Homo sapiens: one gene and its partners. Changing the gene in region 4 together with the main gene of any one other region gives a genetic interaction. Each region holds a gene or a part of one and is shown on either strand. Other genes may lie near its edges.

Region 1 (7,028 bases), about 62 Mb from region 4:
TTTTTCTGGGATCAAATACATGGGTATCTGGCCTACTATATTTGTATTCTAGACTGTTTAGTAAAATAATACAGGAATTTGAGAAAACCTTTGCAAAAGTGTTAGTGAAAATTACTTAGGGTGAGAGGAAGTGAGGGATATTTTATTAGGGGAGGTCACAAGGGCAGTGAGCAATCAGATTTTTAGTAATCTGACTTAAGCAGTTTCTTTTTGTTTTAATGAAGCTTGTTATCTTTATAAAAGTAATTAGAGAAAATTTGGAAAATAAAGGAAAGAAAGAAAAGTTCTTTAGTGTTTTATCACGCAAATACAAGCTCATTCGTTTTTAACATCTTGTTCCAAACTCCAAAGTCTTGCTTTCTCTTCAATTAAAACTTTAATGGGTGGATGCTTTTCCTGCTTCCAGTATGTTATCTTAATAACTAACAATGGTATATTAGCTAATGTTTACAAATGTACTCCAGATGTTCCTTAAGTTACTTTGGTTTATCATTACCAATTTATATTGTTTCTTTTAGAAATTTATAATCTTTGTTAATGGGTTCTGCTAAATTTGGTAGTGAAAATGGGATCTTGAGAAAAAAGATTCTGAAGCAACAGAATTTTTAGATTTATATTGGTTTACATAAGAGTTGGTAGCTGTATTACTTTTTTTGTTTGTTTTGTTTTTTTTTTGAGACGGAATCTTGCTCTGTCGCCCGGGCCTTGGCCTCCCAAAGTGTTGGGATTACAGGCGTGAGCCACTGTGCCTGGCTGTTTGTGTTTTTTTTTGTTTTTGTTTTCTTTTCTTTTTCTTTTTTTCGAGATGGAGTCTCACTCTGTCACCCAGGCTGGAGTGCAGTGGCGCGATCTTGGCTCACTGCAATCTCTGCCTCCTGGGTTCAAGCGATTTTCCTGCCTTGGTCTCCTGAGTAGCTGGGATTACAGGCATTTGCCACCATAACCAGCTAATTTTTGTATAGAGTACCCAGCCATCTCTAATGTTGATCAGGCTGAAGCAGGTGGATCACCTAAGGTCAGGAGTTCAAGACCAGCCTGGCCAATATGGCAAAACCCTATCTCTACTAATACAGAAAATTATCTGGGTGTGTTGGCTGGCGCCTGTAATCCCAGCTACTCGGGAGGCTGAGGCAGGACAATCTCTTGAACCTCGGAGGTGGAGGTTGCAGTGAGCCGAGATCACACCATTGCACTCCAGCCTGGGCAACAGAGCAAGACTTGTCTCAAAAAAAAAAAAAAAAAAAAAAAAAAGGCAATTGAAAGTGTAATCTGAACAGTTAAAAAAGTAGATAGAAAGGGTTAAAGCTTTTTTTTGAGGATCTGAAGAAAAATGTGGATTTTTTTTGAGCTACGTTTTGAAGCAGGCAGTGATTATTTCAGCACATTAAGAAATGCTTAACATGGCCAGGCGCAGTGGCTCACGCCTGTAATCTCAGCACTTTGGGAGGCCGAGGTGGGCGGATCATTTGAGGTCATGACCAGCCTGGCCAACATGATGAGACACTGCCTCTACTAAAAATACAAAAATTAGCTGGGTGTGGTGGTGCACGCCTGTAATTCCAGCTACTCAGGAACCTGAGGCAGGAGAGTCACTTGAACCTGGGAGGCGGAGGCTGCAGTGAGTCCAGATCATGCCACTGCACTCCAGCCTGAGGGACAGAGTGAGACTCCTCAAAAAAAAAAAAAAAAAAAGAAAGAAATACTTAACATTATTCTCGTGATTATTCTCATAACATTTTTCATAATCCACTGGCTTCCAGTGGATTTTTTTAGTGTCAAGAAAATAATTTTGATTGGTTCATCTTTAAGGAATGTGTTAAGAATAAAGCATGTCTACCTGTCTTCAGTATACCAGCTAACTATAGTAGGAAGAAATATAGTAGTCTACTTAGATCAACTATAATTCTTTAATGCAGAAAAAGTTTAAAGTATTTACCTTATTTTTAGCCCCCATCCCCTTAAGTATATCATGGCTCCAGAATCTCTGAAAATGTTATCAGTCTTTCAGACTTTGCTCTTCTTTCATGTTATACTCAAGAAACATTTGACCTTTTTTTTTTTTTTTGCTTGCATTGTGTTTCAAATAATTTTTAACAAAACTTAAGTGTTTGAAAGTGAAAGCAGGTTGTCTTTGTGACTTTTGGTGGTGGTTTGAAAAACTCAGAAAAGTTTAAAGAAGAAAGATAACTAGTATTCTCATTGTCCAGAATATGATTTTTTAAATGTCTATAGAATATCACCATCTGTAATTCTTCCGGTAATTTAAGTATTCAGTAGTTGTATAAAACCTTTAAAATATATATATTGAGAATTTTGTGTGAATGAGATGATGAGATAATCTTGTAGGATCATTTAAAGATAAGAACTGAGGCCTGGCACAGTGGCTCATGCCTATAATCACAGCACTTTGGGAGGCCCAGGCGGTAGATCACCTGAGGTCAGGAGTTTGAGACCAGCCTGGCCAACATGGCAAAACCCTGTCTCTACTAAGCATAGAAAAATTAATTGGGTGTGGTCGTGCCTGCGTGTAGTCCCAGCTGCTTGGGAAGCTGAGGCGGGAGAATCTCTTGAACCCTGGAGGTGGGCATTGCAGTGAGCTGAGATTGCGCCACTGCACTCCAGCCTGGGCGACAGAGCAAGACTCTGTCTCAAAATAAAGTAAAATAAAATGAAGATAACAACTGAAATTTCACATTAAAAATTTTTTTGTAGCGACTGTGCCTCCTATGTTGTGCAGGCTGGTCTCAAACTCCTGGCCTCAAGCGATCCTTCCAAAGCACTGGGTGGGCCACCATGTCCAGCCTGAAATTTTGCATTAAAAAATTTCCCGCTTTTGGCTGGGCGAGGTGTCTCACGCCTGTAATAGCAGTTTGGGAGGCCGAGGCAGGCAGATCACTTGAGGTCAGTTCTAGACCGGCCTGGCCAATGTGGTGAAACCCTGCCTCTACTAAAAACACCAAATTAGCTAGGCGTGGTGGTGTGCGCTTGTAGTCCCAAGCTACTGAGGAGGCTGAGACAAGAGAATCGCTTGAATCTGGGAAAAAGAGGTTGCCGTGAGCCAAGATTGGCCACTGCACTCCAGCCTGGGTGACAGAGTGAGATTCTGTCTCAAAAAAATAAAAAATAAAAATTTCCCCCTTTAATCAAATTAAGTTAAAATGAGGGATGTTAGACAGTTTTTAACCATCAAATATTTTAGTTTAGTTTTTTTTTTTAACGTTGTCTTAAAGATGGAAGTGCTTCAAAATCAAATCTTCCTTGCCAGTTCTCTACTTGGCTTCTTTTTTTTTCTTTTTGAGACAGAGTCTCACTTTGTCACTGGAGTGCGTTGGCGTGATCTCGGCTCACTGCAACCTCCGCCTTCCAGGTTTAAGTGATTCTTCCACCTCAGCCTCTCAAGTAGCTGGGAGTACAGGTGTGTGCCACCACACCCGGCTAATTTTTGTAGTTTTAGTAGAGACAGGGTTTCACTATGTTGGCCAGGCTGGCCTCAAACTCCTGACCTCGTGATCCACCCACCTCAGCCAAATTGCTGGGATTACTTGTGTGAGCCACGCGCCTGGCTTCTACTTGGCTTTTAAAGGGAATTTTGCTTTCTGAGTAATTTTATTTCTCAGGTATCTTGGTCTTTTTAATTCTGGAAGCAATCTTAATAATTTATGTATGTGCCCTGTAATCCCAGCACTTTGGGAGGCCGAGGTGGGCGAATCACGAGGTCAGGAGATCGAGACCATCCTGGCTAACACGGTGAAACCCCATCTACTAAAAATACAAAAAATTAGCTGGGCGTGGTGGCAGGCGCCTGTAGTCCCAGCTACTTGGGAGGCTGAGGCAGGAGAATCATTTGAACCCGGGAGGCAGAGCTTGCAGTGAGCCGAGATCGCGCCACTGCACTCCAGCCTGGGCGACAGAGCGAGACTCTGTCTCAAAAAAAAAAAAAAAAAAATTTACGTATGTGCTAACATCCTGCTATATTCACCTTCCATAGCAATCTGTTGGCTGTGTGTTGTGTATGTGTGTGTTTTCTCTTCTGGGTAGTTTTGACTATACCTATGTGATGGTTTCACTATTTGTAGTTTGAATAGTTCAGTTTTATTTTGGATAGTAAAGAAGAGCTTGCTTTTTTTTTTTTTTTTTTTTTGTCTGAGACGGAGTCTTGTTCTGTTGCCCAGGCTGGAGTGCAGTGGTGTGATCTGGGCTCACTGCAAGCTCTGCCTCCTGGGCTCACACCATTCTCCTGCCTCAGCCTCCCGATTAGCTGGGACTACAGGTGCCCGCCGCCAGGCCCAGCTAAATTTTTGCATTTTTTAGTAGAGATGGGGTTTCACTGTGTTAGCCAGGATGATCTCCTGACCTTGTGATCCACCTGCCTCTGCCTCTCAAAGTGCTGAGATTACAGGCGTGAGCCACCACGTCTGGCCAGAATAGCTTTCTTTTGTGGCAAGCTATATACTTTCCTAATATATGAACATGTTTAGGGTAAAATAAGATGCTTCTTAACGTTTTGAGATTTAAAAAAAATTTGCTAATCAACTTTGAGTGTCTGTTTTTTGAGATATAGGGTCTTACTCTGTCACGCAGGCTACAGTGCAGTGATGCAATCATAACTTACTATAGCCTCCAACTCCTAGCCGGGTTTCAGTGATCCTCCCACCTCAGCCTCCTGAGTAGCTGAGAATACAAGCGCGTGCCACCACACCTGGCTAATTTTTTTTTTTTTTTTGTATTTTTTGTAGGGATGGGATTTCAATATGTTGCCCCAGGCTAGTCTCAAATTCCTGGTCTCGAGATCCACCTGCCTCAGCTTCCCAAAGTGCTGGGATTATAGGCATGAGCCCCACGCTTGGCTGAGTGTCTTAAGATGAAGAAAAACTGAAAATGGGTGTAGTGTGCCAGTGCATGAGGTATTTTAAATGTGTAGCTTACCAGCTTTTTTTTTTTTTTTTTTTTTTTTTTTTTTGAGATAGAGTCTTGCTCTGTCACCCAGGCTGGAGTGCAGTGGCACAATCTTGGCTTACTGCAACGTCTGTCTCCCGGGTTCCAGCATTTCTTCTGCCTCAGCCTCCTGAGTAACTGGGACTACAGGCGTCCACCACCACGGCCAGCTAATTTTTATATTAGTAGAGATGGGGTTTCACCATGTTGGCCAGGCTGGTCTCCAACTCCTGACCTCAGGTGATCCGCCTGCCTTGGTCTCCCAAAGTGCTAGGATTACAGGCGTGAGCCACTACGTTTGGCTGCTTATCAGCTTTTTACCACTTTGTCGCCACTACATTTTGGAATTTTCCTTTGAGAATTAGGCAAAATGCCCAGACTCCCCCCCGGCCCCCGCTTTAGAGGGAGAGGGGAGCAATTAGACTATTCCTTTGTTTCCCTATAGAAGGTGGGGCTGAGATTACTGCTTTGATATCTGGAATGTAATTTAGGGAAGAAAATTTAGGTCTTGGCCTTTCTTTGGAACCACCCTGGGAGTGTTGCAGATTATTAATAGGGTAATGGTGGAATGATATTCAGGGGAAAAATGGTCCTGAGGAGCCAGAGAACTAAGTGTTAGTTTGTTGGCTGACTGAAACATGTGAGAGATAGGGTACAGAAGAAGTAGGAAATAGTTTTCCTTGGTACTTCTGTGACAGGTTGGCTCAATTGGCTGGAACACCCTACACTGCTTTATTAAATCCAAGGTTGTGATAGGTTCCAGTTAAGTTTACTGTGTTCTATGCTTGTAGATTTCCTAATTAGGACAAGTAGTGTTAAATATGCATGCCTTTATTCACAAGAGGGACCATTCTTTTGGAAACATCACTTTTTAATAATACTAGGTGCTATTTAGCACTTACTCGGTGCCAGCCACGTGGCTATGGTTTTTTTTTTTTTTTTTTTCGAGACATGATCTAGCTCTGTCTCCCAGGCTGGAGTGGTGGTAGCACAGTCATGGCTCACTGCAGTCTCAACCTCCTGTACTCTAGTGATCCTCCTGTCTCAGCCTCCTGAGTAACTGGCACCATGCCTGGCTAATTTTTTTTTAAGAGATGAGATGTCGCTATGTTGCCTATGCTGGTCTCGAACACCTGGGCTCAAGTGATCCTCCTGCCTGAGCCTCTCAAAGTGTTGGGATTACAGGTGTGACCCACCTCACTTGGCCATCTATGGTCTTTACATAGGGCATTTTGTGCAGTCTGCGTCTCAAACTAGTGATCTTCAACAGTGAAACTCAGTGAATTATGTAATTCATGTTTTCCAAGAACAATGATGGATTTAATTTCTCTGAATGTATTTCCTTTGTATAATAATAGTACTTAAGTGGAATTACTCTTTGTCCTTTCTACTCTCCTTATAGATATTTTCTGGTATCTTGATTTGGGACTGTTACATTTAACCCATTTATGGTCGTGTAGCCATACTCACGTTACATTTGATGCATCTGCTCCCTTTGTGTCTATATACTCATATAACATTTTGCATAAAGTTATAGGCAGTTCACACCAAGGCTGTTCATGAACCTCAGATTAAGAATACTTGATTTAGGAGATTGAAAACAGAAAAGAGAATGTTAACTATCATTATCAATATTAAAATGTGAAAATCTGAGAGTGACAAAGCTTAGCTTTAAATCTGGTATCCCAAACTCATTTGAGTTTTTTTTTTTTTTTTTTTTTTTTTGAGACAAGGTGTCGCTTTGTCCCCCAGGCTGGAGTGTAGTGGTGTGATCTTGGCTCACTGCAACCTCCACCTCCCAGGTTCAAGTGATTCTCCTGCCTCAGCCTCTGAAGTTGCTGGGATTACAGGCTGCGCCACCACGCCCAGCTAATTTTTTGTATTTATAGTAAAGACGGAGTTTCACCTTATTGGCCAGGCTGGTCTCAAACTCCTGATCTTGTGATCCTCCCGCCTCGGCCTCCCAAAGTGCTGGGATTACAGGTGTGAGCCACTGTTCCCGGCCTAATTTGAGTTTTAAAATGTGGAGTTTAAGATGTTAGTCTTAAAGTGGGTTAGATGAAATTTATAAAAATAGTCAAATAGCTAAATTT
Region 2 (6,015 bases), on a different chromosome or scaffold from region 4:
AGAGCCGAAACTGCTTTTAATCATCTGAAGAAATTCTTTGATTTCAGTGACTTACTGATCTGTACCTGTGCACATATCATTTTATGCTTCTCCTTTTTTCCCCGCAACTTGAACTGTGACTCTTTCAGATATTTCTTAAATCTGTATGAGTCATTTTTTAAGCTTAGGGATTTGATATGTATTAATGTCCCCTTTGTCTTCTGTAGATTTTAGCATTTTATTACCTCTTAAGAAACTCTGGGCCCAGACTTTCAGTCATATTTCTTATTCCTATGGTACAGTTCTCACTTAAAGGCTTAATTATTAGTAGGGTTAAATATATACAGGTTATCTCTAAAAGTACTTAAATTTTTAAATAAGGGCTTATGTGATACAAGATACGGAAACAAAAGTTTTTGGATTTTTATGCAGTAGTTTGCAGGAAAGCAAATACATAGTAGATCGTATGCCACTTAGGTATGTTCAGGTCATGCCAGTTTATTCTTGTTGGGCCACACACACATGTATGTGTGTGTAAAAGGAATTTTTAGTATTGAAGCAAACAAATTGTCAGTTTAATAATTTTCTCTTACATAGCACAAGATGGCAGATACCACCTACTGTACAACAATCTAATAATCCCTACCTTAGTTCCCCTGAGTTATAGAAGATGCTAAAGATTTAGTTGTAAAGGGAAGTAACATGATTTTTTTTTTCTAAAAAGCTGTTTTAAGCTAACTATTATTTTGCTACTGGAAAATTATATTTTAAAACTTACAGATATTTAAAGTATGCTAGAAAATTTGAACCTGATAACAACTGAACCTTTTGTCTTGAATAAATTTCTCAAATAGAACTGTGCAAACCCTAGCACTTTATGTGTTGCTGCCTCCCCATACCTAGGTATGCTCTGTAATAAGCTCCCATTTAATGGAGAGATGTGTGGAGGCACTGAGAAGTTAATGAAGAAAAATCAACCCTAAGAATTCCTTATTGTCACATAGTGTCTTTTAAAAAATAACTGTAGAGACTGTGTTAATTCGAGTGCCTTTCTTACTTTTTTGGGAGCAAGATTATATTTAATGTTTAAGAAAACAGGATGGAAGTTTTATCAAACAGTTGATTGTGGCCCATTGTTTTATTTATTCCCATCGCTAGGCATGGCCCCGTAGGGTATTTTATCCTTCAGTGAGAGACTGATATAAGCAGGCAGGATGCTTTGATTATTCCATTAGTTATCATTTTAAGCACCCTACCAAGATTTAGTTCTTTCTTTCTGGCAACTAACGTTTTGGGGGTTGGAGGCATCCCATTTAGAGGATGGTGTGTGCACAAATAGATTAGCCTGAAACCTGCGTCCAAAGGGAAACAGTGGCACTCTGCCCTAAAATAAAGGCCAGAACGTTGTCCTAAATGAATCCTTTGCCTTACTTTAGGACCTTCCTTCCCTCTCAAATTCAGGCATAATGTAATATAGTTGAAAGGGGGAAAACAGTACTTGCTTTCTCTCAGGTATTGGAGGAAAAGAAGTAAATGCGTAGATGAAATTTTAAATGTATCATTTTATCTGTTTGTATATGGAGAAGGGAGGGATAGGAATTCCATATTTCAAGATAGCAAATATAATTTCATAGAAATATATAGCTAAAGATTCCAAAGTGCTTTTACAGAGAACTGTTGAATAATATATTCCTAAAGGGCAGCAATATGCCATGTTCATGGTGAAGACAGAAAACCAATGAATCAGTTGTGGATCTCAGGTGGGAGAGGAAACCTCAGGCTCCCAACTTTGACTTCTCTACTCTCACCAGGCCATGTTAACACTGTAAAACCAAACTCTTTGCTAAGAACAATACAGGGCAGTAGTTTAGTCTGCTGATGAAACCTTGTGCTTCCAAGAATATTAGCTATATATAATTTGTGCTTTCTGGATGATTCTATTGTCCAGAAAGCTAACCCTGACGTTACTTTTATTAGTCTGTTGTTATTCCTCAGGGTGTAGAAGATTTAGTAAATTCAGGACAAATTTTATATTCAGTGGCAAAAAGAAAAGGCAAAAATATGCTAAATATATTATTAGCTCTTAAATTTTAGTATAGATCGTATTTTTTATAAACTATTACCAGTACAGTAGCTAGTAGATATTCTGTGACTGCCTCATTGTTTATCTTGCTGCTTTGGTCCCTATGGCTCTAGTATGAACATTCTCGTGTCTTCTGTGGAAATGATTTCTGTGTTATAGTTCCATCTTTGGTAGAGGTGGGGATGATTGTATTTTGTTTTAGTTGACATCATTCTCAACTTTTAGAAATACTGTTGAGGAAAATGATTACCGTTGGTTTTCAAATTGACAACTATTTTGCTTCCAAAGACTTCAGTTTCCCTTTGTTTTATGTGTAGACCTCATATATGTTCAACACATTGCATACTGCCTTGCACATTGTAGGAATTCAACAAGTCAAGAGTTGATAAAAGCTAGAAAGATAAAACTAGCTTAGCTATCATATCATCATTGTCCATATTCTTAGCTTTGGGAAAAATATACCATTTTGCATAAAATACATAATCAGTTTCAAATGCATAAGGCAAAGATATACAGTTGCACAACATTGCAAGTGAAATTTACAAAGGATTTTTATTTTTGTGTATGCTAAAAGTGCTCCTACTTAAAGCAGTTTTCTTTATTAGACCAACACCTTCCAGCAAAGTTAGAAACCAAACACAAGTGCTCATTTGCCCAAATTAACCAGATAGTTATGTAAACTGTTCATATTAAGTCTTTAGTGGTTTACAAACAATAACATTCTGGCTTTTCTTCCATACCTTTTAGGAATCAGCCTTAATTTTAAGTATAGCAGTCACTTTCCTCAAGGTACTATGCAGCATACTTTAGATTGCTTATTTATCATTATAAGGTGATAGGTAATAAATTTGAGGTTTACTTGTCATATAATTTCATATGGCAGATATTGATTCAAGGAGCATTCTATTAGAAAAAGTTGATAAATTATCCTCCCTTACAAATATCATCTTGCATTTGGAGCAGGTATTTTTTTCTTATTAGTTAAAGACTGGGTACAGTTATAGTAGATGCTCAATAAATGCTTAGTCAGTGATTGATCTAACATCAAACTAACAGCTTTCAGAAAGGAGACTGTTGACATCTTTTCACCAAGGAGTATATTTGTAGAGTAATATATGTGTGGAATTTTGAAATTATATCATTTGACATGATTTATGAGGCTTATTTAAGCTGGAGTTAGTAACGTAATAGAAGTATTATTTATACAGAACATAGTTGAAAGATAGGAGATGTGAAAGATTAAGTAGTATTTTCTTGTGCAAGGCATATTAATAAATGTAATTAAATGTCTTAATAAGCAGCTGGCTGAACTCTAGAGAGAACTGCTGTAGTCTTCTGCAATCAGTCTCTGTATTGGTATATCCAGTACTATCGGGTTTAGGTTCTTTTTATTTTTCCTTAAATCTTACTTGTTTCTAGCGTCTTAAGAGTGGTAATGGTAAAATGTGAAGTTACAATAAACTTCTGCTTGTTTTCTCAGAACATCTTTGGCATGAGGAAGAACTTTTTGTGAATGATACAGTAGTCTCAGCATCTGTTAATTTGTGGTTTTCAAAGCATTTTTGACAGAGTTTACCTAATGTAAAAAGATTAAACAGTTTTATAAAACACAAATAAACATTCCTACCTGAACTGTGAGGAACAGAGTGTATAGTACAAATGTAATTAGGCATTGCCTCCTGGCGAGGTTCTTGATGCATGACTTCGATGCTGGCTGCTGACTGAGGTGACCACTGTCAGTATTGTACTTTGGCATATGTTGTTTTTAGGAAAATAATGGAATGCATTCTTAGATTAACTTACTGTTTTTGAGTTGGAAAAAATAAAAGATGAGGTATTATAAGTATGCCAAATATTTATACACTACAAAAGATTAAAAAAGGAGAGGGAGAAAAAAAAAGGCCAGTTATGATTTTAATAGCGTCTAATTTTTTTTTGACTCGAATTTTGTGGACACTAGTCAATTGCATAATTTAACATGGAGGAGCTTTCATTTAAAAGAAGTTCTCAGCTACTATATTCTGCCATTAAAATTAACCATGCCTGTTAATTTTACATTGCTTGAAGATATAAGTAAGCTGCCGTCAATATTGTTTTAAGATTTTCTTATAGTTTATGTTTAAATGGAAAAGTTACATATATAATCTATGGTGCAGGGTCAGGCATTGGCCATTAAAGATAAGTTTGGCTAACTATTTTACTGAAGAGACTAATGGTCTTCCCTCTGTTGTACTGCTATGTTTCTTGATCTGTTTTTCCCCAATGTAACAGTCTACATTGAAGTCCTTTAGCTCTCTCCATATACTAATTGACATTTGTTAAGGATTCAATATTTTGTGAATTCTTTTTACCCTTAAAATGCATATCTTTCAGAGAGATAAGAATGAATTTTGCAATAATTTATATGCAGAGTGTGCTTATGGGTTTCTGGGAGTTCAAGTTAGTACCCCAGAGTGCTTAAAAGTATGATGCTAAATTCTAAGGCTAATGTAATGACTGTAGATTATCTATGTCCACATTGTTCAACAGAAATATAATGTGAACCACAACATAATTTTTAATTTTCTAGTAGCCATATTAAAAAAGAAACAAGCAAAATTAATTTTAATAACAGTTTATGTAACCCAGTATATTAAAAATATCATTTCAACATGTAATCAATATAAAAGATTATTAATGAAACACCTTATCTTCTTTTTCTTCCATACTAAGTCTTAGATTTGAGTGTATTTTGCACTCACAGCACATCTCAATTCTGACTGGCCACATTTTAAGTGCTCAGTAGTCACATATGGCTAAGGGCTACTATACTGGACAGTACAGATTCATAGAGTATAAAATATGACTTTAACTTTGGAGATGGTGAGGTAGGCCTGTAATTATGGTACTTTAAAAATTCAGAATATTTAGAAAAGCATCTAATAGAATTATCCACTTGTTTTCCTTCATCTTCATTTTAATATGTTCTAGAAGTAGGATCAGCCTGTTCCAATTTGCCAAGCATTATTAAGGAGGAATAATTCCATACCATGTAAAATACCATGATATGCTGATTATACTACATTAACAAATTTTTAAGTTGCGTTCACTAAATTCTGTCCTGTTTCTTCAAAATAATATAGCTTAAATTGCATGTTAATTGTATATCTTACCTATTTTGTTTTTATATTATTCTTACAATATAATCATGTATATTAACAAACAGCCCTGGGATTCTAATCTTCCTCTGCAACTGTCTTCCAGGACTTACTGGCACTTATTACACTGTGATAAGTGGCAGAAAAGTAGAATGAAATATTCTTTTTCCATTAGATTTGTTCTTATGTGACCATGTACCAAGCCAGCTATAAAGTATTGTATTTCTGTAGAATATGGAAAATAGTATTTGTCTTACCTTTGCTAAATGTTTGCAATTTCTAAGTAAACCTTTTATCTCCTAAAATGAGTGTTAAGTGTGATTTTGTTTTTACTTTTGGTGCTTTAAACTTGAGTCTAGTCTACCAAGCTTTCCATTTTATTTGCTTTGATGGTGGTAGGGGGGTGGAGGTGTGAACTGTTGTCTAAATGAAACCAATAATTTTATGACCTACATTTGTAGAAAGAATAAAAATGCCACTATGTCTAGAACATAAAAGAAATGTCAAAAACAAATTAGAGATATCGCCACAGTTGTTTTTAAATTGTATTAACAGTGACTAATTGCCTTATAAAAGTTATTATGACTAGATACGCTTTTTCCCATCCATTTCAAATGAAGCTGTAGAGCACATATAATTACTCGGTTATTTTAGTGTTACATCCTATGTTTTCTCAATCCTGAGTCTCACTTCTGTATGTTATAAGCCAGATATAGTGGTCTTACTTACACAATATAATACATAGATAGACTCCAAAAAGTGTTTGATAAAGTGGATACTTTTTTTAACTCAAATTTTAAATATTTCAGAAGTGTG
Region 3 (7,478 bases), on a different chromosome or scaffold from region 4:
AGTGCACTGAAGTGATCACGGCTCATTGCAGCCTCTACCTTGCGGGCTCAAAGTGATCTTCCCACCTCAGCTTCCTGCGTAGCTGGGACTTCAGGTGTCCACCACCACCACCACTTCTAGCTAATTTTTTTTTTTTTTTTTTTTTTTTTTGAGACTGAGTTTTGCTCTTGTTGCCCAGGCTGGAGTGCAATGGCGCGATCTTGGCTCACTGCAACCTCTGTCTGCCGGGTTCAAGCAATTCTCCTGCCTCGGCCTCCCGAGTAGCTGGGATTACAGGCACCTGCCACCATGCTTGTCTAAGTTTTGTATTTTTAGTAGAGACAGGGTTTCACCATGTTGGCCAGGCTGGTCTCGAACTCCTGACCTCAGGTGATCCACCTGCCTTGGCCTCCCAAAGTGCTGGGATTACAGGTGTGAGCCACCACACCCGGCCCCTGGCTAATCTTTTCATTTTTTGTAGAGATGGGGTCTCACTATGTTGCCCAGGCTGGTCTCAAACTCCCGGGTTCAATTGATTCACCTGCCTTGGCCTCTGAAAGTGCTGGGATTACAGGGGTGAGCCACTGCGCCTGGCCATCCCTTGGTTTAGAATACTATGGTGCTCACCAGATCTTCCCAACAGTCCCGGTCAGGGAGGGCTGATGCCTCCCTCCACAAACAGCTAGCCCAAAGGGCTCTCAGCTTGCTGAGTCTAAATTCTCACTTTATGGAGAAAGAAATCAAGACACGTGACCTGCCAAGGCAACAGAGCTGGGTATCCTAACCTGATTTCTGAAACTTCATGGTTTGGTCCAGTAGGAGCTATTTAGGGAATCCCCAGTACATGCCCTGCGTGTGCCTAGCTTGGCAGAGAAGGCCCCAGAAGTAGAAGCCAGGGCCCAGCCTAGAACCTATTAAGTTGAAAACCCACGTAGAGAGACTGATGGCTGGGTGCTGTGGCGTGTGCCTGTGGTTCCAGCTACTGGGGAGGCTGAAACAGGAGGAGGATCCTTGGAGCCTAGGAGTGTATGACCAGCCTGGGTGATGCAGCACAACCCCGTCTCTCTTTTCTTTTGTTTTTTCGAGACAGAGTCTCGCTCTCTCACCAGGCTGGAGTGCAGTGGCACGATCTCGGCTCACTGCAACGTCCGACTCCCTGGTTCAAGTGATTCTCCTGTCTCACCCTCCAGAGTGGCTGGGATTACAGGCATGCGCCACCATGACTAGCTAATTTTTGTATTTTTAGTAGAGACGGGATTTCACCATGTTGGCCAGGATGGTCTCGATCTCCTGACCTCGTGATCCACCCACCTCGGCCTCCCAAAGTCCTGGGATTACAGGCCTGAGCCACCGCACCCGGCTAACCCCATCTCTTTGGAGACAACAACAACAACAACAACAACAACAACAACAACAACAACAACAAAAACCTGTTATGAAGTCACCAGGAAGAGGTGGTCAAGTTGCAGTGAAAATTGCACTTAAGGCTGGGTGCAGTGACTGACACCTGTAATCCCAACACTTTGGAAGCCCGAGGCACGAGAATCATTTAAGCCCAGGAGTTTGAGATCAGGCTGGGAAACATATCGAGACCCTGTCTTTACAAAAAATTAAAAAATGTGCCAGGTGTGGTGGTGTGCCTCTGTATTCCCAGCTACTCAGGAGGACAAGGCAGGAGGACTGCTTCAGCCCAAGAGTTGGAGACTGCAGTGAGCCATCGTCACGCCACTGCACTCCAGCCTGGGTGACAGAGAGAGACCCTGTCTCAAAATAAAAAAAAAAAAAGGCAAAAGGTAATCACATTTAATATACTTGAGTTCCAACCTGTGGACGGACCCTGTGTGAAGTACTTTAAATGCATCATCTCATTTAATCTTCACAACAGTTCAATGAAGTCAGTTTTGTCATTGTCAACTAATGAGGAAACCAGAGGCCAGAGAAGGGAAGTGACTTGCCCTAACTTACACAGTTTATCGCTTTAAGACTCAAACCAGGTTTCTCAGACTCCAAAGTCCCTTCGAGAGCCTGCTGGTTCCCTTCTCTGTTCCCCTCCCAATCCAGCTCAGAGCTTCACCCTTCCCCAAGGAAATCTGAGACCTGGATGTGGAGTAGAAAAAGGAAGTGGCAGAAAAGGAAGAAGATAACTGATACTTGGGGAAAACTATTAGTCCTGGGCATGAGATGTGGGCCACCTACCCGCAGGGGGAGTGACCAAGAGTGAGGAGAGTTTGAGGACCAGAGAATCCCACAGGAAGGGGGAGAGCAAATTCCATATTCATCTAAACTTCACAGGCAGTGTGACAGCCAAGGGAAGGGGTGTGACGGTGGCGTTGGGGGCCTGAGCAAAAGCGAGGAGAGGGCGGGAAAGGACGGACCGGCGGGAGCGACAGGACAGCGCGACCCAGGCAAAGGGTAGGAGGCAGCCCCGGAAGAGAGGACCTGCGGGAGACGCGACCCAAGCGGCGCTTCGGGGCCTCCCGCGTAGTTGGCTAGCTTCTGGGCCGGCCCCAGGAGCCGGGCTTCAGGAGAAAGAGAAGGGTAGAGGGATTCACTGCCCGACCTAAAGGGCCCAAGCCTGAACCCGAGACCAGAAACTATCAAGACGGGCTCCAAAACTCCGGGACAGTTGTCAAGCAGCAGGTGGGGAAACTGAGGCCTGAAGTGACCGGGACTGCGGGGTCATCTGACCGATAAGGCCTGGTAGGACCGATGTCTCGAGCTCCAAGAGCTGCCCCTGGGGGTCGCCACGTCTGGGCCCCGGGTGCGAGGGCTCGGGGTTTTGAGCCGGGGTCCTGGGGCCCCTGGGGGGAGGGGCAGAACCCGGATGTGGGGGGGGGTCAGCGGAAGAGGGACCCGGATGTGGGGGCGCCGCACAGTCCTGACCCGGGCCAGACAACCCCGGTAAGCGTACAGCCCTGTATTCGGGATCGAGGCTGCGCTGGACGGCGCGGGCGGGGCTCACTCACTATTCGGGGTTCATGGCGGCGGCGGCGGCCCGCTCGGTCGCTCCCAGTCGACTCTGCTCCGCCTCCCGTTCCAAGATGGTGGCCGCTCCGCCCCAGAGGCCCCGCCCGCGACGCGCAGGCGCAAACGTCTTCTTCTCAGGCCTCGCCGCGCTGATTCCCGGAACTTGTAGTCTAAGACGTTCTCCAACTCAGCCCCGCTGCGCAGGCGTAGTCGGGGAGCCCGCGCCTCCGCGCCCACTCCCATCACTGCTGGCGCATTGCCTTCTGGGGCTTGTAGTTTGCACTCCGGACGCACTCAGGCTTGAGGACAGTGCTGGAAAGCCTGACCGCGACTCGGTGTTTAGAAAGCTCAATTTAGGGCTGGGCTTGGCACGTTTCACATCTGTCTGACGGAGGTAGTCATCCTTGCCCTCCCAATACCCACGTTGTGAACATTAAATGAGAATGTGGGTTCTAGTAAGACTAATAAAAGTACATTTGTCCAGGGTTCTTCGTGTACTGGGCAGTCCTAACTCGCAGCCGCGCGTCATCACCCGCATTTCATAGATGAAAAAACTGAGTCTCGGGAAACTCACTCAAGGTCAAAAACTTTGTGAGGAGCAGAGCTCATAAGAGCCCGCGGTCTCCAGAACCCCACAAGTGAGTGTTTTAGGGAAAGCCTGACTTGTGGGCCCCTCACGCAATTCCGGGGTGGGGCACAATATCTGGGCCCAGCTGCGCGGACAGCGGTTGAGCGAGACACACTGTCCCCCACTCACGCACGACCCTTCCCGGCTCCACCCCAGTCTAGAGACGCTGGGGGCCCCCGACCTCCGTCTCAAAACAAGCCCAGCTCAGATTTAAACCGTCTTTATTTCTACAGCAACATCTGAAAATATGAGAGCAGCCGCCTCACCCGCAACAGGGGGAGCCCCTCCTGCCACCAGGGGACCGTCGCCGCCCCTCGCGAGAAGCTGCAGGCGTGGGGGGAGGCGAGGCAGGATGGCTCGGTGGGCGGTGCCCGGGGCGGGGTCGGCCGTGCCTGGGCGGGGCCGGGTGGGAGGGGCAGTGCATAAGGCCGGGATGCGGGGCAGGGCCCGGCGGTGGGAGGACGGACTAAGGGGAGGTCCCCGTCCTGGGCCACGGGGCGATGGCGCGGGTAGGACGCATCCCTCAGAGGCCAGGAGGAGCGCGAGAAGGTCCCAGGACCCCCTTGGGAGGCGCCGCTCCCGAGAATGTAGAGCCTGGGAGATACCACCGCACGGAATGGGGGTGATTAAGGCCTGGGCGGTACCACTAGAAGAGGGACGAGGGGAGGCCCGGGTAGTACCGTGGACTGAAGGGAGGCGCGCGGCCAATAACTTATTTCTCTATATACAGAAGCAACGGCCGGGTTGAGTCGGGAGGGAGGGCGAGGGTGCCGAAGGGCCGGCGAGTGCTTAGTGTTCTTGGCTCTGGGGTCTGGGGAGGCCAGGCCACTGAGTCTATGGTGGAGACTCCAGCCGGCACCTCCTGCTGGCCCGAACCTAGGGAAGAGGGCCCTGCTGGAAGGAATAAATAAGGGATGGAGCTGGAGTGGGCAGGCCCAGCCTCCAGGGCTCAGGCTGAGATGACAAGGGAGAAGGTTACCCTGAGATTGAACAGAAAAGACAGGGGCTGTGGGAGAGACAGGCGGGACAAGCAGCAGGCCCATGCGCAGGGCTGGGGTGAGGGGGGTGTGCCAGGTGGGCGCTCTGGTGACTGGCTGCCCCTTCAGCATTAGCCCACCAGGGAGCTTCGTCGGGAGAGGTCCATGGAGCTGGAGCTGAGAGTGCGGCTGTCAGAGAGACCTGTGCCTCCAGGCTGTGGGCAGAGGGGGCAGGTGGCTCAGCCCTGTGCTGCTGCCAGTCTGTGCCTCCCTGGCCTGAAGGGGTCTGACCTGGCAGAGGCAGCCGGAATCCCTGAGCTGGGCAGAGGCAATGGCAGTTCTGACCCAAGGCCACACCCTGGTGCCCTGACACTCCCGTCCATCTCCACAGTGACGGTGTTAGCACTGGCCGTTTACACGTCCACCCCCAGGAGAGGCTGGGTTCCCCTCGTGTCTCCCCGTTGTCCAGCCCAAAGTAGGCCTGAGACAGAGCCAGGAACTGTTGCTGGATGAAGAGGCATGCTGGAGGGAAGCTTGGCAGCACGCATGCAGCCCCGGCCGCAGCTGCCCAGTGCCCAGACACCCGCCTGCCCCTACCTGGGTCGGCTCTTCCACGCTCTTGTTGAGGAAGTTGAGGGAACTGGCCCGCTTCATCCTGAGGGAAAAGGACAGCCTGGGATTTGCCCAAGGAGGAACTCACGGGAGATGGGGGCAGGGAGAAGGGTGGGGCTGGGGAGGGAACAGACTGGTGGGTGGTGGAGCCTGAGAGGGATGGGGAGGTTGCCTGGGGTCAGTGGGGCACACTCTGGGTCAGGAGCTCATCCGGGGTTGCTGGGTGGTTCTTGAGGCTCACCTTGGTGGGGGGCTCACCTGGGGTTAGGGGGCTCCTGGGGGGTGCCCCCCTGCAGCTTCTTTACCAGCATCTCACTGCTGCGCCTCAGGGCATCCCGGAGTTTCCCAAAGGAACCGCTGCGCCTCAAGGAGCCACTGCCATCCTGCAGGTGGACAGGCTTGCCTCTAGGCCCCGCTGGCCACCTAGGCTCCCAGCCCGACCCGGCCCAGGCCCCGGACTCACCCCATTCCACTCAGCTGTAGGTCCCACGTCCTCGAGGTCAGACTCAGACCGAGGCCCGGCACCCCCAGCCATGTCTCGGCTGCTGCGGCGGTCTCCCCGCCTGCCACTGCCATCTTTCAGCAGTTCTACCACCTTGGTCTGGCTTGCGGGGTCCAAACCCTGAGGGAGGGGCAGGGGCATCAGGCAGTGAATGGACCACACCCAGGGCCACACAGGTGTCTGCCCACCCCCTCCTGCATGGAGCCCCACCTGCTTGCGGTTACGGCTGGCACAGTCCTCTAGTGTGTGCGCGGCTTCCAGCTTGCCCTGGCGCCGGTATAGGGCCCCCAAGCTGCGCAGGGTGGTGTTGACTGTGGGGCTGTGGATGGGACAGTCTCAAACTCCATGTTCCCCCAGACCCAGGGCCCATCCTGGCACCCAGCCCACAGTGGGCCCTGAGGAAGCATGGACCTCCGGGGTAGCCAGAATCCATTCCTTCCCATGTCAAGCCCTGTGCTGGGCCCACCCAGCCTCTTCTGTCCTGGGGAAATCACCCCAGGGCTGGGGACCTGGCCCCAGGGCCCTCATGGGATGTTGTCACCAGGACCAAAAGCTGGGAGACCCAGAGCCAGAGAATTAGGCTGAGAATTGGGAGACAGAGCCTTCTTGGGACAGGTGACCTGTGAGTTGGGCCTTGCCAGATGAGCAGCAGAGGAGGGGTGTGTTGGGGGTGAGAGTATGGAATGTGGAGCCCGCCCTGCCGTGCCCTGCTCCCCAGCCCAGCCCCGCCCCACTCACCTGTCTACTTTACAGGCCTTGTACCAGCTGCCGTATTCCCCATAGGGGGCGCTGTCCCGGCGCTTATCCTGGAGGAAAGAATGGTCACAAGAAGTGAGAGCAGGCCCCCCTCTGCACATCCCAGCCTCCCCTGACAACCGCCCAGCCTGCCCCACAGAGCTACCTTGCTTTCCTCCCGCTCCTCTGCGTGCATCCAGATGGGCTTGTTGTCCCCTGGGGAGAGAAAGGGGACTGTCACCAGCCTACCATATAGGTCTCACCTGGTTGGGCTGGACACAGGACTGGGGTCAGGGGAGGGGAGACCACGGTTGGGCTTCGTTGAATGCATGAACAAGAGTAAGACCCAAAACACTGCTGACCCTCTTCTGGACAGAGATGAGCAGAACAGACCCTTGCACCTCAGGCCACAGCCCAAGACATGTGCTAGGCCTGAATGATGGGCCAGGCTCCGAGGGACTCAGGAGCAGATGACTGACCATCCGGGGCCAGAGGTGGTTTCCCAGAGTGGGAGACACTGGGGCAGGCCCTCAAGGTGAGCAAGAATCGCCAGTGGAGAAGGGGGATGCAAAGGCGTGTGAGGCCCTAGCAGGCCAAGGGGGCTGCGTGAGTTGGGTGTGTGCTCATGTGTGCAAACGTGAGCACAGGTGGCTGGGCACCATCTGAGGGTGAGGCTGGTGACCAGCCAGGCCAAAGCCTGAGGGCCTGCCCTGCTGAGGGATTTGTCCTGGGTGCTGATGGCAGAGTGGGCCTGGGATGGATGGGCTAGAGGCACCTGGTGACCACGCACTCACCATTGACAGAGCCAAACTCTTTCTCATGAGCGCGGGTGAGGATCTCCTTGTACAAGGTCTCCGCATCCTGGTACTTGCCCTGCTTCAGGTAGCAGGAAGCCTGGAAGCGGGAGACCCAGAGAGTGAGCGGGATGCATGCAGCCAAGCCTTTTTCTCTCCTTCTTCCCCAACCTCATCCCTGCCTCCCTCCTTCCCATCCTCCAGCTCCTCTCAGCCCCAAGGTACCAGGTTGTTCTTGGTCTTGGCCACATTGGGGTCATCGGGCCCGAGGCGTGTAGCATAGA
Region 4 (7,028 bases):
CCATGGACAGGGCTGTCCTCCAACACTATCTGGTGTCCCATGTGGACTTCCACAAGCAGGCGGCGTGCAGGAGATGGTGTGTGCACGTGTGCCTACGTGTGTCAGTGCATGTGTGAGCAACTGTGTGGAGGGGGAGAGGACCAGCTGTTAGCTGAGAGTGCAGGCCCTGAGTTCACAGAGGCCCTGTTCAAATTCTAGCTTCCCCATTATCTATGTGGCCTCCTGTAGCTGGATATCACTTAACCAGGAGACCTCAGTTTGCTGATCTGTAAAACAAGCCAGTCACACCGTGAGGTGAAATGCTCAGCGCAGGGCCTGGCTCACCGTGAGTGGGTGCCTGTGGAAGGTCTGTGCTGCTTCTCCCCGCTCAGCCATCCCTTGCTCGTGCCTCCTTTCCCTGGCCCAGGTTTGGGACGTGACCTAAGACTGAGGGTGAGAGGGGCAGAAGCTGCCCTGTGCTCCGCCTGCAAGGGTGGGATTGACAGGGATGTGGGCGGGACTCATCACTCCCTGTGACCTCCCTGTCACCAAATATTCCAGGAAAATGCATTCCAGCTTCAAGGACATTCTTAGCAAAGGGGGTCCTGCCGAGCTTTGTGCATTACTGAGACCACTGTTCAGTCTGGACTTTGTCTGTCCAGCAAACATGATTCAAGGGTTATTTCAGGCAAAATATCAGCGAGTGACTATTACGGGATAAGCTGAACTGAGATTCCTCACGGTTTAGTCAGTGCTTTCGTAACTGCAGCAGGACAATGTCTAGAGTAACTCATTTCAGTGTGGCTGTGATGACACTTTCTGTGGGTTCACATTTAGCAACAGGCACAAAAGCCAGCAGGGCCTCCCACAGTCAAACCAGAACTCCTGGAAAGAACCCACCCTTTTCATGGTCACATACATTTGAATTGGAATATTTTCTGCAGTCTTTCTTATATTAAAATGATTAAAAGCAAACAGTCGCCCATCTGAGCAAAGAACTATCATAAGGCCTTTCTGGCTCATGTCTGACCGTGCACAGGTACCTGCAGGGAAATCCGGCCGATGCCGCTGAGCAGCTGGGGCTCTTGCTCTGGGTAATACTTGATAACCGAATGATACGCCTCCACGGCCAGCACATAATCCTGTGGGAAGAAAAACCCAACGTACTTTAGAGCTGAGAACAGCACTGTGGGTTTCACACGTGTAGAAGAGCACAAGTGTATACAGACGCGGTGTAGAGAGAGGACACGCTGACGCAGGAGCTGGCGGGGAAGCTGGAAACCAGCACGCGGTGCTCGGCTGCCAGGGGGCGGCTGCTCTCCCGACTGCAGTCGGGCCGGGATTCTGAGCTGTGCGCATCGCAACGGCGGGGTCCTGCCTGTCACCGGGGGCTGTCGCGGTTTAGTTGGGCCTGAGGGTCTGTTTCCTGCTTCCATCTTCTAAACAGCGATTCATATTTCACTTGGACTGCACCTAACTCTCTTTCCTGACAAAGTTATCATGTGAGTTGGCGAACGCTGTCTCATCTCCATCCTCCAAATACATAGGCCAAATTTTTAAAGTGTCTCTTAAACGTTTTCTATGCTAGAAATTAAGGTCAAACCTTTACATGTAAAGAAAAACCACAAAACAAGTTTGCTGAGGCTGAGTATGTGATGGAGGTCGGCCTTGCAGAGTGCGTGAATGTCGTGTGCTCCGTGCGGCACGCATGAGACCTTCCCGTTTTAGAGACAGCTACGGGGGAACATGTAGGAGCGCTGTGCCAGCTGCCGTGCTCAGGGCATCTGGTTTCTGCCAAAGGCCTTTGCTGGATTCCTCATCGCTCTGCCCTGCCTGTGGTGGTCTGGCCCGTGGCCCCTCCTCAAGGGCAAGGCCTGGCAGCACAGTCTCACTGTCCATCTGCCCACTCATGCCGGCCCATCACAGCCACTTGCTGGACGCTGAGCGGACCCAGTCACCCTTTCCAGGTGTGAGCAACGCGGTCTCCGTGCAGGAAGGTCTTGCCAAAGTCACGTGGGACACAGTGGTAGCTTGTCTCAAGTCCCCAGCAAACCCGGGCTCTCTCCAGGATGACAGTGATCGCCGCATTTATTGAGCGAGCTGTGTGCGGCAGGCCCTGCACTAAATGCTCCCCTGCATTCTCGCACTTAGCTATAAGCACGCGGTCAGCAGTAACTATGGCCACCAATGGTGTTTTTCTTCTTACTTACTCATCGTATAATCCCAGAGGTACTTTTATTTCTTTATTCTTCTACATGTTCCATTTCCTCCAAACTGGGACTGGAGTTACTGGCTTGCTAATTGGGATGTTACAAAGAAAGACAGACAAGTACAATTCCAGTTTGGTAGGAAGGAAAAAACAAAAAAAACCCAAAACGACTCTCTCCAGTCTAGTACCTTCGAGTACAGCTCATTAAAACTAATTTTATTCAAGGCCTGACGCCCATGACGAGCCAGACAGCACATGCCTCGGTCTCCTTTCCCACGCCTTCCTGCTGCCTGTCTCTGCTGTCTAGCTGTGCGAGTGCGAGCATGTGTGTGTAAGCGTGTGTGAGCATTGTGTATGAGTGTGAGCGTGTGTGTGAGCATGTGTGTGTGTGGACGTGTGTGTGTGAGCTCCCTCACACAGGGGAGGGCTTTGTGACCTGGCATGGGGGCACTCGGGGCGGCTGAGGTTGCAGCTGGGACGGACATGGCACCCCAGATGCAGCTGTGGGGCCTGCACACCCTGGGCTGGCCCTGATCTGAGAAGTTTAGGGGAGCAGCCCTGCTTTCCAACAGAGGCTGCACTCACCAGCTTGCACCAGCTCGGGGAAAAGTAGCAGCTGCCCCCCTAGGCTTCTCTGGGGAAGGAAGTAGGCTTCCGAGCACCCATCATGCTGGGCAATGTCTGTTCTAATCCCACACATGTCCCACCTTTGGTTTCAAGTAAACAAAAGGCAGGCTTTGACTTTCTTGTTATCAGCCCGGCAGTGTCACTGGGTCATTCCAGTGCCCCACTCACGCCACTGATGCTCCAGGCTGAGGCGGCCACCACAGAGAGCGCAGGGTGGGGGCGTGGTGGGGGCGCAGCACTCACTGCTAGTGGGCGATGCCGTGGCCAGCCGCATCACCCTAACCGCTCTTTCAGTGCTCAGGGCCAGGGGTCAGTGTTTCTGAAGATAATCTAGTATGACAAAAGACAGGTTTTTACGAAACCAAGCCATGCTCTTTGATGGGAAGTTACTTTAGGCATGGCTCTTCCCAAAGAGCACGTGCACAGGCCTGGGAGCCGTGTGAGAGGAAGCTGGATTCCAGGCCGGGGGCAGGCGCGGCAGAGAAGGGATCTCGGGGGCCCCTGCACCCGCCGGCAGCCACTCCCACCAGCTCAGCAACAGTAGCGCTCGCCAGTCCCTCAGGTGTGAACATGACACGTGTCTGTGTGTCCGGGCTGCAGTTGGGGGAAGAATTCTGGGGCACTTCAGGGGGCCCATCGTCAATACAGCAGATGAGGATTTGGGATTGTGTTACAAAGTTTCCTTAGGTTGACGGTTACTTAATGACTTTATTTACTGAAGAGGAAACAGCCCTTCACAGGTAAAATGGCCAAAAGAAGCTCCTCAAGAGAGCTTAACCTACTCTCCAGATCCTGTGGATTTGGCTTTTGTAAAGGACATGAATGACTTACTTCCAGGGACAAGTCTATTTTAGCTCAATCTTCACCATTTCTTTTCAGCAGCCACACGTGTTTACAGGCCGTGAAACTAGATTTACAACCATTCTGCAACCAGCAAGGACTTCTGCAGTCTAATTTCAGCAAGACGGAAGGTAGCTGATGCAGCTGCGTGCTCCTTTCCATCATGTGCGGAGCCACGGCGGGTTCTGATGTGCATACTGGCGAGCTGTGGGGACACCAGGAGGGAAGTGGCCTCCCAGGGGCACCCGGGGGAGGGGGGGCCCAAGCCACCTAAGGTGGCAGGCACCTGCATCCATATGGTCTGCCAGTGCAGGTGCCCTAAGGCTACAGTGAGGCCTAAGGAGAGGAAGAAGTATTTAAAAAGTGAAGATAGTGACATTTTCAATGCTTTATAATACATGCCACTGTGCATTATAGCATATCATGCAGATTTATCCAGGGCTAAAACGTATGAATACATTTCATTGCTAAGAAGTTAAATTGGTATTTATTTCACTGTAATAAAAATGTTATTCAAGATAATTAAATGGCTGATTAAATAACTCATTGTTAGCCCATATACATAATTTAATTAACAGGATACCCCATATTATTAAGATCACACACTGTTGCAATACCCTGTATGCTCACTAGATGGCAAGAGAGTGCATATGCTTGGCTTGGCTTTAATTGCAACATTTTTGCCTCCTTTTTTTAACTCATGAAAATGAAAGCTTAAGCTGAACTTTCAAATTAAATCATGTCCATTGTAAAAGTATTTTTGAAATGCAATAATATGTTCTGTACTGAGTCCCAGCAATACAGGAAGAAGACTCACATTCGGAGCCTGGTGGTGGTGTTACTACCACAGTGCCACAAAGAAAAGCCCATTCCGTCGTTTTCTATTAATGTGTCTTAAAATGCAAATGAAAGCCCGCCAGTGGAACAGGGAACTTTCCTCCCTGGGGAGTTTTAGCCCCATGATTAGTGAAACGTCAGTCCTGTGAATTTATAATTGATTCTTCATGTCTTTGCATAAGAATGTTCCGGCAAGCTGGTGACTTTCAGGTGACGCTGACAATGCCCTCAGCAGGTGGAGGCCTACTGCGGACCGCCCAGACCGCCAGGTGGGGGTGTCAGGGCTGGCCACAGGCAGCACAGGGAGAATGGCCTGTTTTGGGAGGCAGAGGGGTCAGGCCGGGTGCTTCGGGGTCACCTGGTTGCTGGCCAAGCCTTGGGTGGTGAAGAGGCCACCAGGGCAGGGGAGCAGGAGGGCCTACTTTTCACTCCCACTCAGAGGTGGGCAAGCCCTGCTGCAGAAGCCAGAGGGGGCTGGAGAAGGGAAGGGGGCGGGTGGGAGGAGGGTGAGGACCAGAACAAAGCACCTGTGCGGGCCACCTGACCTCAGTGGGACTATCTCAGGAGTGGCAGCGGAAGAAAAACCTGCTCTGAGCAAAACCACAGAACTTGAAAACCGTAATTTCCTTTATCCAGTGTGTTGAAGGAGAGGAGAGAGCTGTGTGAATGTCAGAGCTGGGAGGGATTTCAGAGATCTCAGATCTATGCCCTTATTTTAAGGAGGAGGCTGAGGCTTGCAGTAGTGCGAGGCTGCGTCACGGTCGCTTGCTACCGAGGATGAACAGGACGCCGAGTCTCCTTGTGCGTCCAGCCTGACGTAGACGCAGAAGCGCAAAGGCAGCGGCCCCGCACTGGGCACTGGGGCTGCGCTAAAGCCGGGGTGCGGGCTGCACGTCTTCCTGATGGAATGCCTGAGCCACTGATGGCTGTGAATCTATACCCGCACCCAGCCTGCTCGGAGCAGTGCCCGGGGTCACAGTCACCTCTGGGGATGCTGCAGGGTCCGTGCATAAAGCAGGGCTGCCACTTCAGGGTTCATGACAGAGCCCGTGAGCACAGTTCTCCGCTGGTAAATTGCCTGCTCTGCCTTGCTGAAAATCAAGCTCAGGAATGACCTTGGCCCCATGAAAGCCGCATGGGTGTGGGAGTTAAGGTCGCTGTCTTCGAACAGCCCAGGAGGTGTTACGAGCACTGCTCCGGAGCGCCTGCTGCTAGCTGATTCCTGCAGTAGCTCTCAGTACGCACAGCTGGCTGCAGGGACACTAGCTCCACACAGGGCACCCTGATGCCCAGTGTGGGAGGTGAGCCAGGTGTGGGGTGCGTTCCAAACAAAGAGAGGAGCCAAAAAACACCGTTGCACAGGCTGGCGAGAGCCAGGAGACACGGAAAAACAGATGACAGCCTCAGTTCAGCTCCTTGATTTCTAAGCTGTTTCCCTGCGGGCTGAGAGCTCTGGGGTGACGTCCTAAGAAGGTCTTGTGGGGAAGCCTGTCTTCAGGTGTTGTAAGCATCAATCATAAAATCAAAACCATGAGGTGAAAAAAACACCCTCCACGAAGATAGGGAGAACAAAGGACACCTTCTGGGGATGGAGTTCAGAGAAAAATGGGGGAAAATGAACAATACTTTTAATTAAATCATTTAGACCCACATTTCAATAATGAAATCTGATCATCTAAATTCTACATTCTGTTGAAATTTCTTGCAGTAGAAATAAAGTACATATAGCCCCATAATGTGTCACTGGGCTCCCTGTTAAGCCAGTACTTAGCTGGCTTCTCTGCACGGCCGGTCCCTGCCAGCATCTATTATACCAGCGGCTCCCTCGCGGCTCCCACTGACCCCGCTCTTCCAGATCACATGGCAGCCCTGCTTGGCCACCCACGTACCTTCATCAGGAGCAGACAGTTTGCCATGGAGTACATCACCCGGCCCAGACGTGACCTCCACAGCCGGATAGAGGCTACAAGGTAAGAGCAGCCTGTAAGTGCACAAATAAATTCGAGGCTCTTTCTAGCCCTCAATTACTGGGTCCTGTGAATTCTAATTTAACTTTAAAAGATCCCTCTTGTTAACACCACTGGATTTCGGCCTGGAATGCTGAATATGCTGCAGGCTGCACTGAGGCAGAAAATACAGCACTCGCATTGGGACCAGAGGTGGCTTTGGGAAGAGACCCTCGGCATCAGAGAACCAGGAGGGTGGCTGCTCAGCATCAGCCCAGACACAAGGCCAAATGGTCCGACCGGGGGCCCCGTTTCCAAAGCCAGAACCCTGAGAAAAGGAGCAAAGCTGACAGAAACGACGACATTGCCTGCAGCTCGACAAGGCTGGGAGGGCCACTGGCCAGGGTGGCCGCCAGCCTCTCGCAGTTGACCTATGGGAGGCCACCCGGAGGGCCCCACCCATGCCCAGCCATGAGGCCTCCCCTGCCTCCCGACCATGGGCTGGTGCAGACGCCGGTTCCCCCAAGGAGTGCTACACCGTGTTCCAGAACTCAAGTGGCTGGCACATTCCGCTGGGGACTCGGCACTCC

What was found.
Region 1: changes in TRAPPC12 (region 4) and RAB1A are lethal when combined (synthetic lethality), as found in Homo sapiens cells (2 studies listed by BioGRID, with this or other methods).
Region 2: changes in TRAPPC12 (region 4) and PTAR1 are lethal when combined (synthetic lethality), as found in Homo sapiens cells (one study listed by BioGRID).
Region 3: changes in TRAPPC12 (region 4) and RAB1B are lethal when combined (synthetic lethality), as found in Homo sapiens cells (one study listed by BioGRID).

The regions. Positions count from the first base shown.
Region 1 is NC_000002.12:65,120,088-65,127,115, reverse strand, and holds part of RAB1A (ras-related protein Rab-1A), read left to right. Parts: intron 1-7,028. UniProt on the Homo sapiens protein: The small GTPases Rab are key regulators of intracellular membrane trafficking, from the formation of transport vesicles to their fusion with membranes.
Region 2 is NC_000009.12:69,709,014-69,715,028, reverse strand, and holds the end of PTAR1 (protein prenyltransferase alpha subunit repeat-containing protein 1), read left to right. Parts: 3' UTR 1-5,504; downstream 5,505-6,015.
Region 3 is NC_000011.10:66,264,161-66,271,638, reverse strand, and holds the start of RAB1B (ras-related protein Rab-1B), read right to left. Parts: upstream 3,001-7,478; 5' UTR 2,960-3,000; coding exon 2,946-2,959; intron 1-2,945. Other genes in the region: KLC2 (kinesin light chain 2), read right to left, coding at 4,683-4,766, 5,149-5,206, 5,422-5,546, 5,627-5,785, 5,876-5,984, 6,404-6,471, 6,567-6,616, 7,195-7,294 and 1 more. UniProt on the Homo sapiens protein: The small GTPases Rab are key regulators of intracellular membrane trafficking, from the formation of transport vesicles to their fusion with membranes.
Region 4 is NC_000002.12:3,459,690-3,466,717, reverse strand, and holds part of TRAPPC12 (trafficking protein particle complex subunit 12), read right to left. Parts: intron 6,456-7,028; coding exon 6,382-6,455; intron 6,075-6,381; coding exon of another isoform or gene 6,015-6,074; exon of another isoform or gene 4,120-6,014; intron 1,122-4,119; coding exon 1,023-1,121; intron 465-1,022; exon of another isoform or gene 1-464. UniProt on the Homo sapiens protein: Component of the TRAPP complex, which is involved in endoplasmic reticulum to Golgi apparatus trafficking at a very early stage.